Linked DNA regions of Homo sapiens: region 1 is linked to region 2. The links come from fine-mapping of genetic effects on gene expression. A gene starts in region 2. The other region holds a variant in brackets. All regions are shown on one strand. Distances are between the middles of the regions. Region 1 overlaps DRD4 (dopamine receptor D4). Region 2 holds the start of IRF7 (interferon regulatory factor 7).

What was found. PIP is the estimated chance that this variant, and not a neighbour inherited with it, causes the effect.
Region 1: its variant is fine-mapped to the expression of IRF7 in whole blood (TOPMed, PIP above 0.99).

The regions. Positions count from the first base shown.
Region 1 is chr11:637,474-642,802 of GRCh38, forward strand. It overlaps DRD4 (dopamine receptor D4), which reads left to right. Exons shown (of 4, transcript NM_000797.4): 1 at 1-116; 2 at 1,960-2,072; 3 at 2,175-2,833; 4 at 2,928-3,233. The coding sequence ends at 3,130. Among named protein-coding and RNA genes, the nearest start is that of DRD4, 2.9 kb to the left of the region's middle. RefSeq lists enhancers at 217-751, 752-1,285, 1,286-1,820, 1,821-2,354, 2,720-3,331 and 3 more and a silencer at 5,176-5,329. The variant C/G (reference allele first, on the strand shown) is at 3,420.
Region 2 is chr11:612,830-618,130 of GRCh38, forward strand. IRF7 (interferon regulatory factor 7) reads right to left here and starts at 3,121. Exons shown (of 11, transcript NM_001572.5): 1 at 3,084-3,121; 2 at 2,516-2,818; 3 at 2,268-2,430; 4 at 1,968-2,178; 5 at 1,647-1,705; 6 at 1,345-1,570; 7 at 1,122-1,208; 8 at 956-1,036; 9 at 377-766; 10 at 170-288. The coding sequence starts at 2,535. CDHR5 (cadherin related family member 5) reads right to left here. Exons shown (of 15, transcript NM_021924.5): 14 at 5,125-5,282; 15 at 3,754-4,941. The coding sequence ends at 4,522. RefSeq lists enhancers at 1-199, 794-1,388, 1,983-2,577.

The sequences.
Region 1 (5,329 bases), 25 kb after region 2:
TGAGCGTGGCCACCGAGCGCGCCCTGCAGACGCCCACCAACTCCTTCATCGTGAGCCTGGCGGCCGCCGACCTCCTCCTCGCTCTCCTGGTGCTGCCGCTCTTCGTCTACTCCGAGGTGAGCCGCGTCCGGCCGCACGAGCATCCTCACCTGCTCCTCGGTTCCCCGTCCCTGTCCCTACGGAGGACCCGGCGCGACCCGGCCCCTTTCTGGTGCGGAGCTTCCAGCTGGGGCGGCGGCAGGGGCGCTGCGCCTTGTCCCTCGGCGATACACCCACCGCCGCCACCTCGCGACCTTCCACCCGCTGCGCTGTCTGTCCCCCGACCCTCGTTCCTCTTCTCCTTCCCCGTCTGTCTTGGCGTCTGTTATCCAGGAGATGCCCGTCCTTCTATCCAGGGACCCCGGAAACAGGCGACTTTGTCAAGCCCAGTCCCCTCCGTAGCTGGATTTCACCTCCAGGGCAGCCAGCTGGACAGACAGGCAGATGCAGGCTCAGCCCCCTGGCTGCCGTGGGACACACACACACACACACTGCCACAGCCACTGCCCACCACACACACCTAGTGCAGATGCTGGCACACCCCCAGAAGGAGGCTCACAGCTCGCAGGGGAGACCTGGGCTGGACAAAACCCAGGGGAGGGGAGGGTGTGTGGGGACCAGGCCCCTGCTGAGAACCCTGGGGGGAAGCCTGAGGGGGAATTGGGGGATGGAGCCCACACTCCACACCAGGTCTGGCCCTCGAGTGGGTCGGCCTTGGTGCCAGCCCCTCTGCGGCCAGAGAAAAGCAGCTTAGGGCTGAGCTGGAGACGCGGTGTCCCCGACTGTGGGGGAGGGGGACTCGAGGTTTCCCCTTGATGGACACAGTGAATCCAGGCGGCTGGGGCAGAGACCAGCAGCACGGGACACGCGTGACCTGTGCTCCTTTCGAGCCGCAGACGTCACAGTGACGACGTTTAAGCTCCTAATCTCCCCAAATCGGCGGGAAGGATTAGAGGGGCTGCCTGCTCCTTTGCCCTTGGAGAGAGTCACTCCACGTGGAGTCCTACGCTGGGCACTGGGCACGGTCTTCATATTTTTAATTATAATTTATCTTCAAGACAATTATGATGTGGATACTATCATCACCCTTGTCTTACAGATGAAGAAACAGAAATGAATTAACGTGCCCGAGTCTCCCACAGAGAACTTAGCCAACAGAGCAGCCAGCTTCGCTTCTAGGCCCAGCGGGGACCCTGCCTACCCCAGGCTGGGGAGGGGCTCCCTTTGAGCCCGATGATATCAGGCCCGCCCCCAGGGAATTCCCCAGGCCGTTCTCATGTTTGTAACAAAAGGGAGACCAAGGCCAGAAGCCGTGATTCACGCCTGTAATCCCAGGACTTTGGGAGGCAAAGGCAGGAGGATAGTTTGAGACCAGCCTGGGAAACATACCAGGCCTGGTCTCTACAAAAAATTTTAAAATATCAGCCGGGGGTGGTGGCTGCGGCTGTTGTCCCAGCTATTCGGGGGAGCTGAGGCGGCAGAATCGCTTAAACCTGGGAGGCGGAGGTTGCAGTGAGTTGAGATCTCACCACTGCACTCCAGCCTGGGCAACAAGAGCGAAACTCCGTCTCAAAAAACAAAAAGAAAAACAAATCAGCCGGGGGTGGTGGCGCGCGGCTGTAATCCCAGCTACTCTGGAGACTGAGGTGGGAGGATCGCTTGAGCTCAGGAATTCCAGGCTACAGTGAGCCATGATGGAGCCACAGCACTCCAGCCGCGGTGACACAGCGAGACCCTAACTCAAAACAAAGGGAGATCTGCGTGGGGAAGGGGTGTTTCCCTGCCCGGTCCTCTGGCCTCTGGCTCACAGCCGGGCCCCCTTCTCCGTATTCAGCCCTGGAACTACCCATAAGAGTGGGGGCGGGTCACAAGGGCCCGCGGTGGCTGGGAAACCTCAGGGCCTGTGGTGTCGCCGCGCAGGTCCAGGGTGGCGCGTGGCTGCTGAGCCCCCGCCTGTGCGACGCCCTCATGGCCATGGACGTCATGCTGTGCACCGCCTCCATCTTCAACCTGTGCGCCATCAGCGTGGACAGGTGCGCCGCCCTCCCCGCCCGCGCCCCGGCGCCCCCGCGCCCCGCCCGCCGCCCTCACCGCGGCCTGTGCGCTGTCCGGCGCCCCCTCGGCGCTCCCCGCAGGTTCGTGGCCGTGGCCGTGCCGCTGCGCTACAACCGGCAGGGTGGGAGCCGCCGGCAGCTGCTGCTCATCGGCGCCACGTGGCTGCTGTCCGCGGCGGTGGCGGCGCCCGTACTGTGCGGCCTCAACGACGTGCGCGGCCGCGACCCCGCCGTGTGCCGCCTGGAGGACCGCGACTACGTGGTCTACTCGTCCGTGTGCTCCTTCTTCCTACCCTGCCCGCTCATGCTGCTGCTCTACTGGGCCACGTTCCGCGGCCTGCAGCGCTGGGAGGTGGCACGTCGCGCCAAGCTGCACGGCCGCGCGCCCCGCCGACCCAGCGGCCCTGGCCCGCCTTCCCCCACGCCACCCGCGCCCCGCCTCCCCCAGGACCCCTGCGGCCCCGACTGTGCGCCCCCCGCGCCCGGCCTTCCCCGGGGTCCCTGCGGCCCCGACTGTGCGCCCGCCGCGCCCAGCCTCCCCCAGGACCCCTGCGGCCCCGACTGTGCGCCCCCCGCGCCCGGCCTCCCCCCGGACCCCTGCGGCTCCAACTGTGCTCCCCCCGACGCCGTCAGAGCCGCCGCGCTCCCACCCCAGACTCCACCGCAGACCCGCAGGAGGCGGCGTGCCAAGATCACCGGCCGGGAGCGCAAGGCCATGAGGGTCCTGCCGGTGGTGGTCGGTGGGTTCCTGTCCTGAGGGGCGGGGAGGAGAGGAGGGGGGGGGTACGAGGCCGGCTGGGCGGGGGGCGCTAACGCGGCTCTCGGCGCCCCCAGGGGCCTTCCTGCTGTGCTGGACGCCCTTCTTCGTGGTGCACATCACGCAGGCGCTGTGTCCTGCCTGCTCCGTGCCCCCGCGGCTGGTCAGCGCCGTCACCTGGCTGGGCTACGTCAACAGCGCCCTCAACCCCGTCATCTACACTGTCTTCAACGCCGAGTTCCGCAACGTCTTCCGCAAGGCCCTGCGTGCCTGCTGCTGAGCCGGGCACCCCCGGACGCCCCCCGGCCTGATGGCCAGGCCTCAGGGACCAAGGAGATGGGGAGGGCGCTTTTGTACGTTAATTAAACAAATTCCTTCCCAAACTCAGCTGTGAAGGCTCCTGGGGGCTGATGGGGAGTGGGGAAGAGGGGTTTCTGCCTCAGTGGCCCCAGGCCCCCCAGCCAGTTAACCTCTTTCTCCCCGCCAAGGAAGCCCACAGAGCAGACCCCACCAAGCCGGCCGCCTGCTCAGGGTGAGGGGGGAAGGGGCCCCCGAGAGCCACTCAGTTC[C/G]GCAGCGCTGGGGCCCAGCTTCCCCTCTCTGCAGGGGAGAGGAAGCAGCACCCAGCAGGGCAAGGTGTCTCCTGGGGAAGCCCAGTTCCGATGGGAAGAAACAAATGGGGAGAGGCGGGGTGGGGGGCTGTCAGCCGCCAGGCCCTGCCCGGGCCAACTCCCACCTCTGAGAACCAGGCACAGGGGGCTCCAGGCTCATGCTGCCCCAGCAGACCCCGGCAGGGGAGCCCAACCTGTCATTTTAGAAGCTGCCTTGAGGCCAGAGCCTAGCTTCCTGCCAGTCCCTGGCCAGAGGATGCCCCAAGCCCCACAGCAAGGGGCCTGTGGTGATGGGTGGGGCCCCACCAAGTGGCTTCCCTGGAGGGAGCTCCGTGCTCAGTCACCCCTGGTGCCCAGCCAACCTCTGCCCAGCGTCCACCAATGTGGCTGGGCCAAGGGGTGGGAGCAGGGAGGCGGCAGCGGGGCCAGGGGCTGGGCAGAGCGACCCAAGCTGCCTGTCTGCACCCTGGCTCCATCAACCAGTGCAGCCCCTGACCCTGGGGGAAGAGGGGCGGCTCCCAGGGCCCTCCATGCAGGAACAGCCTACCCTGGACTGGATCCAGCTCTCTCCCAGGCCCAGGTTGTGGGAGAAATGGGGGACCCTCCGCCTCCCAATCGTGCTGGCTGGAACTTTCCTGTGCTGGGGATTCGGCGTTTGCAGCCAGGGTGGCCAGTCAGGGTGCCAGGCTCCCATCTGAACACTGACAGACTGTGGGCTGTGCAGTCTACAGCATTGGGCACAACCTCAGCTTGCTAAAATACTCAGTGCAGGCTGGGTGTGGTGGTCACGCCTGTAATCCCAGCTACTCGGGAGGCTGAGGCAGGAGGATCCCTTAAAGCTAGGGAGTCAAAGCTGCAGTGAGCCGAGATCGTGCCACTGCACTCCGGCCTGGGTGACGGAGACCCTGTCTCAAAAAAGAAAAGAAAACGAGTATTGGGTGGAGAGAGGACCAAGCCCAATTACTACTTTAGTGCGGCTGCCCCGTCCCGTCTGGTGACCACGCACTTCTGTGATGGCCTCAGCGGCTGCCTCCTCCAGGACACCTTCTCCGACTACCTGCTTCCCAGGACCAGCCTGTCCCAGTCACCCCCGGAACAGACTGAGTCACAGTGGATTCCTCTCAGACACCCGTGAGAGTGAAGGAGGGGCTCCCGCCAGCTTTGTCCCAGGACCCACAGCCCCACACGTGCCTGACAGCGCTGGAGGCCATGGGAGGTGCACATGCATCTGGGGGTCCTGGGGGTGCTGACAGCCCTGGGGCAGGGCGACCTCTGACCATCAGCCTCCCAGGCTTGGAAAGGAGGAGCTGTGGAAACCTGGGATCCCAACAGACGCGTGGTGCTTGGCTTCTGTTTTACGGAAAGTTGGGGAAGAGTAAGTGGCCCCCACAATTCCAGGGAATACCCCCACTCCATTCCTGCAGGGCCTGGCGCAGGAAGCCAGGTGGCATCACTGCTGGCGGGGGTCACTGTGCCAGAGGGCTCCCACGGTGCCTCCCCCACCAGGCAGGGGTTCAGCTACTTCCTGCAGCTGTGCTCTCTGCAGAGATGCTGGTGTTCTCAGCTTTGGGGGATTATTCTTAAGAGGTGCAGGTCCTCAATTGCCTGCCACCTTTATGTTGGTTAAAACCCAAAGGAGCAGGCCCAGCCCTGCTGTCTCATGGAGGTCAACCCACGGCCCGCCTGCCTGGACAGGGCAAGGCCAAGCAGGGCCTCTGAGATGCCTCCACCTTGCGGCAATGGCAGACCCTGCTGGGTTGGATGAAAAGCCATTGTAGAGTCTCAGAGGAAGGGCCAGGCGGGCTGAGGGTCAGAGGAAGGGCCAGGCGGGCTGAGGGTCACAGGAAGGGCCAGGCGGGGTGAGGGTCACA
Region 2 (5,301 bases):
GACCCGGCGTGTGTCCTCCCCTCCCCCTCCCCAGGCTCTGAGGGCGTCGGGCGTCTGTCAGTGACCCGGTGTATGGCCTCCCCTCCCCCTCTCCGAGGCTCTGAGGGCATCAGGCGTCTGTCAGTGGGCCTGAGCACATGGCCTCCCCTCCTTGAGGCTCTGGTCTCACCTTCACCAGGACCAGGCTCTTCTCCTTGGGCCTCCCAGCTGACAGGTCCTGCCCGAAGCCCAGGTAGATGGTATAGCGTGGGGAGCCACGGCGCTGCCGTGCCCGGAATTCCACCAGCTCTGAAGAAGGGGACTCTGCTGAGTACCTGGCAGGCAGGTGCTCCCAAGGACCCCTGGAGACAGCCCCCCAGGCAAGGGCCTCACTGACCTTGGAAGAAGACTCTGAAGTCGAAGATGGGGGTGTCACAGTTCCGAGGCAGCAGGCAGGCTGGGGTGGAGGGGCTGGCGGAGCCTGGGGGTCCGCCCACCTCCCAGTACACCTTGCACTTGCCCATGCGCCGGGCCCACAGCTGTGGCCCCCGAAGCTCCAGGTGCAACCCAGGGGCCACGTGCCGCAGCAGTTCCTCCGTGTAGCGCAGCTGCTTCTGGTCCGGGAGCTCGGCAGGGCTGGGGAATGCTACCTGCTGGGGGTCTGTGGCCCGGACAGCTGGGTCTGGGGGGCCGTATAGGAACGTGCAGCTCGGGTGTCCCACCACCTTCTGCAGCACCGTGCGGCCCTTGTACATGATGGTCACGTCCAGCGCCCCTGGGCTGGGCTCTGTGTGGAGACCAAGCTGTGAGTGACGGGGGTGGGCGGGGACAGGCTGTGAGTGACGGGGGTGGGCGGGGACAGGATGTGAGTGACGGGGGTGGGCGGGGACAGGATGTGAGTGATGGGTGGGCGGGGACAAGCCGTGAGTGACGGGGGTGGGCGGGGACAGGCTGCCCCTTCCTGGGATGCACTCACCTTGCACCGCGGTGCAGGCGCTTGGGGAGGGTGACAGGTACGGCTCTGCCTGGTGCGGGGACTCTGGGGCCGCGGCCTCGCCTGCATCCGGAAGGGAATCCTGTGCTGGCACCTCATCCCTAGCCTCTCCCTGTGCCCCAGGCCTCCCAACCCCTACCCCTCTCACCTGTCGTTAGTGCCGCGGGCTGGGGCCCGGGGCTGGGGGTCGTCTCTACTGCCCACCCGTACAGCTCCCCAGCAGGGAGCCCTGGGCCTGAGGAGGGGAGGACAGTGGGAACGGTGGTCCCCTCCTAATTCTCCAGCTCCCCAATCCCCAGCCCCCTTCTAAAGTGTCCGTCCAGGTGCACTGGCCCCTCCCGCGCTCCCCCCCTCCCCGGGCACGCCCACACCTCCAGCACAGGCCCCAGTCAGGGGAAGCCCTTCTTGTCCCTCTCCAGGAGCCTTGGTTGGGACTGGATCTGCCCCCCATGACGCTGTCAGCAGATGGTCTGCCAGGCAGCTCTGTTGCACTGCCTGGAGCAGGAGGTCCCCCTTGTCACCAGCTGGGGCAGGGAGGGGGCCTGGGGCTTGGAGTCCAGCATGTGTGTGTGCCAGGAATGGCCCTGGGGGCCCACCCTGCAGGGAAAAGTCAGGGTGAACGTAAGCAGCTCCGCGGCCTGGCAGGAGGAGAGGCAGGCAGAGAGAAGGGTACCTGTGGTGGTGGGACAGCTGCGGGGGCCTCTGCCTCAGTCTGGTCCGTGCCTGGGCCTTCTGAGAGAGAATGGGGCAGGCGTTAGGCCCCGACACCAGAGTGAGAGATACAAGGAGAGCCTGGTGTAGCCCCCACCAGCTTCCTGGCTGTGAACCCTTAGGCTGTGGCCTGAGGAGGTGGGGATGTGGCTCTCCACCTGTCCTGGGCCTGCTGGCAGCCTCTCCCAGAACAGCTTCTAAAACCACAAATCTGACCCAGAGAATGTTCCCCTTTGCCCAAGCAGGACGAATGCCAACGCCCTTGGCAGCCGGCGTCGCTCACCTCGCCAGCACAGCTCCCGGCTGAGCGCGTACACCTTGTGCGGGTCGGCCGGGTCCCCCGAGTTATCCCGCAGCATCACGAAGCGACGCGTGCTGCGCAGTGCGCAGCGGAAGTTGGTTTTCCAGCCGGCGCGCTCCGCAGTCTCAGCCTCGGGGGGCGGGCCACCTCCCCTGCTGCTAGGCGGCCACCTGCCGCGGGCCACAGCCCAGGCCTGAAGAGGGGGACAGAACACGTGTGCCGGGCCCGCGGGGTCCTAGGCGGGCTCTCCCACCCGGGGCGGGGCGGGGCTGGGGTCCCCACCTTGAAGATGCGCGCGTCGGCCTCGCTCAGGTCCTTGCGCGCGAAGTGCTTCCAGGGCACGCGGAAACAGGTGCGGGCCTCGTCCAGCCACTGCAGCCCCTCATAGCAGCCGCTGCTGATCTCTCCAAGGAGCCACTCTCCGAACAGCACGCGTGGGGCTGCCCTGCGGGTGCCCGGCCGCGGAGAGTCAGGGCCGGCTGCAGGGCGCTCGGGGACTGGCATCTGGAGAGGGTGGGCCGGGCTCTTACCTCTCAGGAGCCAAGGCCATTGCTCCTTCTGCAGGGGCAGTTAGGTGGCGGTCAGGTGTTATAACAGGGGAGGTAAGGGCTCCTGTCGCAGCAGACGCCAGGCCGCGGCCACAGGTCGTGTGGCCAGGTGTCACAGGTGTCCACAGGTGTGGACTGAGGGCTTGTAGCCACCGACGCTGCCTCGGTATGGATCTCTTGGCAGAGGGGGCTACAGGTGTGACTGCAGGTGTGGCCGGCGCGCACACATGAAGTCACAGGTGTTGAACCAGTGTCCAGGCCTGGCGGGAAGGCGCAGGCCGGACCCTGCGGAGACGGGAAAGGCGACGTCAGGGGCGGGTCAGGCTCCCGGGAAAGCGAAACCTAAACAGTGGCGCTTCGCACCCTCCTCGATCCCACCCCGTCCGGTTCTCAGCTCCGCGGAACCCCGCCTCCGCCTCCGCCTCCCTCCCCGCCCGACCCTCATCTCTCAGGCTCCCCCAGCTCTTGGCTCTACCCCTCCGGGGTCACGGAGCCCCCACGGAGGCTCTCGCTCCCGGCCTGCACCGCGTGGGTCTGGGGTCCCCAGTACCTGGGTGCCAGAGCCGCCGGGACGGGAAGTTTCGTCTCGCGGGGAAGCGGAGGGCCGGCGCTTTTATGGTGGCCAGGCGGGAGTTTCCGGGAAGGGCGCGCGCCGCCTGTTCTTATTATTGGATGCGACCAGCGGAACCCCGCCCCGGCCAGCGCGGAGTAGGGAGGAGTGGAGGGCGTTGGGAGTGGCTGCAGTGAGCCGAGATGGAGCCACTCCACTACAGCCCAGGGGACAGAGCAAGACTCAGTCTCAAAAAAAAAAGGAAGTGGGTAATGGGAGGTGGACGTGCCTCGAAAAAGGGGCAGCTGCACCGTTTGCGTTTCTTTTTTTGAGATGGAGTTTCGCTTTTGTTACCCAGGCTGGAGTGCGGTGGCACAATCTTGGCCCACCACAACCTCCGCCTCCCGGGTTCAAGTGATTCTCCTACCTAAGCCTCCCGAGTAGCTGGGATTACAGGCATGAACCACCACGCCCGGCTAATTTTGTATTTTTAGTAGAGACGGGGTTTCTCTATGTTGGTCAGGCTGGTGTCGAACTCCCGACCTCAGGTGATCTGCCCACCTCGGCCTCCCAAAGTGCTGGGATTTAGGCGAGAGCCGCCGTGCGCAGCCCCCTTTGGGTTTTTTACATTGTTCAGTCAAGAATATCAGATACTCTCACAATTAAAACATTTGGAAAGGAATTAATGGTGTATTTCCATTAGGGAAAGTGCTGACAAGCCGCAAGGGATCCCTTGATGGTTCTGGGCATGGGCGCCCAGCCTGGGCTCTGGCTTTGGGAGCAGCGAGGGGAATGTGTCTCTCACCCCTAGGCCTCCTGGTCTGGCTCCTGCTCAGGCCACACGGCGCACCCACCCCCAGCGCGCCTCAGTCCAGGTCACTGGGCAGGGTGTTTACTGCTGCGCTCCAACCCAAGCATGTAGATTTCAGAAGGGGACTAGGACCCCCGGCAGGTGTTTGAGACCACCGGCTCCCAAGTGCGTCGCCTTGGGGGTTTGCATCGGCTCCTCAGCCTCCCCAGGCAATCTCTGTGTAGGGTCGGGAGCGGGAGGTCTGAGATGAGCCGGGTGCCTGAGATCTCCGGTGCAGGTCGGGGGAGGGGAGCCCCCCTCGGGCTGTGGTTAGAGCGGGAGAGGAACTTCCCAGACTAGCTGGCACAGAGCCTCGGGAAGGCGGCGGGCACTGCAGGTGGTTTACGGGAAGTGCTGCAGCCTTGGGGTGGGGACAGCGTGGCCAGACCCACCGCCTCATCTGCACACCTGGGCTCAAGCGCTAATGACGACAGGGGACTGAGTGAATGGGACCCCCATGGACCCGCGCGCCTGCCCCACGCCATGGCCTGGGTTTCGGGAGCCTTGCTTTATTCTGCCTCGGGTCGGAGGCTGGGGGAGCGAGACCTCCAGTGCCCGTGCGGCTGGGGGAGAGGGTGGAGGGGCCACTTAGATGTAGGAGTCATCACCACCGGGCGCATCGTAGGGACCCCCACCCCTCCCCGCGCCCTCGCCCTCATCGCCGCTGCCGGAGTCACTGGCGCCATCCACGTCCAGGGTGGGCGCGTTGAGAACGACCACGTCTGCCTCCGTCCCGATGTCCTCGCCAAACCAGACAGCCTTGTACCCGCCCTCCGGCCGCCGCTCCTTGGTCAGGATGGACCTCACCGCCGTGGGGCTTCCGCCAGCTCGGGCCGCTGCGGGGGGCTCAGGGGCACCGCCTGGGGAGGCAGGGCCGGGGGGTGCGGGCTCTGCGGGCATCGGTGCCTCCGCGGGCTTGGGGTCGTGCGTGGGGCTGGGGACGGGCGCCCAGTTGGCCTTGTGGTCAGGGAGGAACGCCTGGTTGTCAAAGCCTTGGGGCTGGGGCTCCTGCAGGCGGGAGTCGAGGCGTCAGCGGGGTCCCTGGGTCTCTGCAGCCTTGGCCCTGCACACCCTCATTCCACGCTGGACACCCCTCCGTCTCCACATCTGTCCCTCTGCCCTCCCCTCTCCTGTCCCCCGTCCCCCACTTCCTGCCTGGTCGCCTGCCCTGTTCTCCATCCTGGGCCTCACCGGAGCTTTGCCACAGCAGCACTTGAGCCGGGGGCCATAGTGCTTGTGGACAAGGACGGCGAGGCCAAGGAGAGCCAGCAGCAGCAGCGCACCCAGCACCCCGCCCAGGGCCGCCATATCCACCACCGAGAAGCGCTTGTCCTCCGAGGGGCCGCCACCTGGCATCGCAGTGGAAAA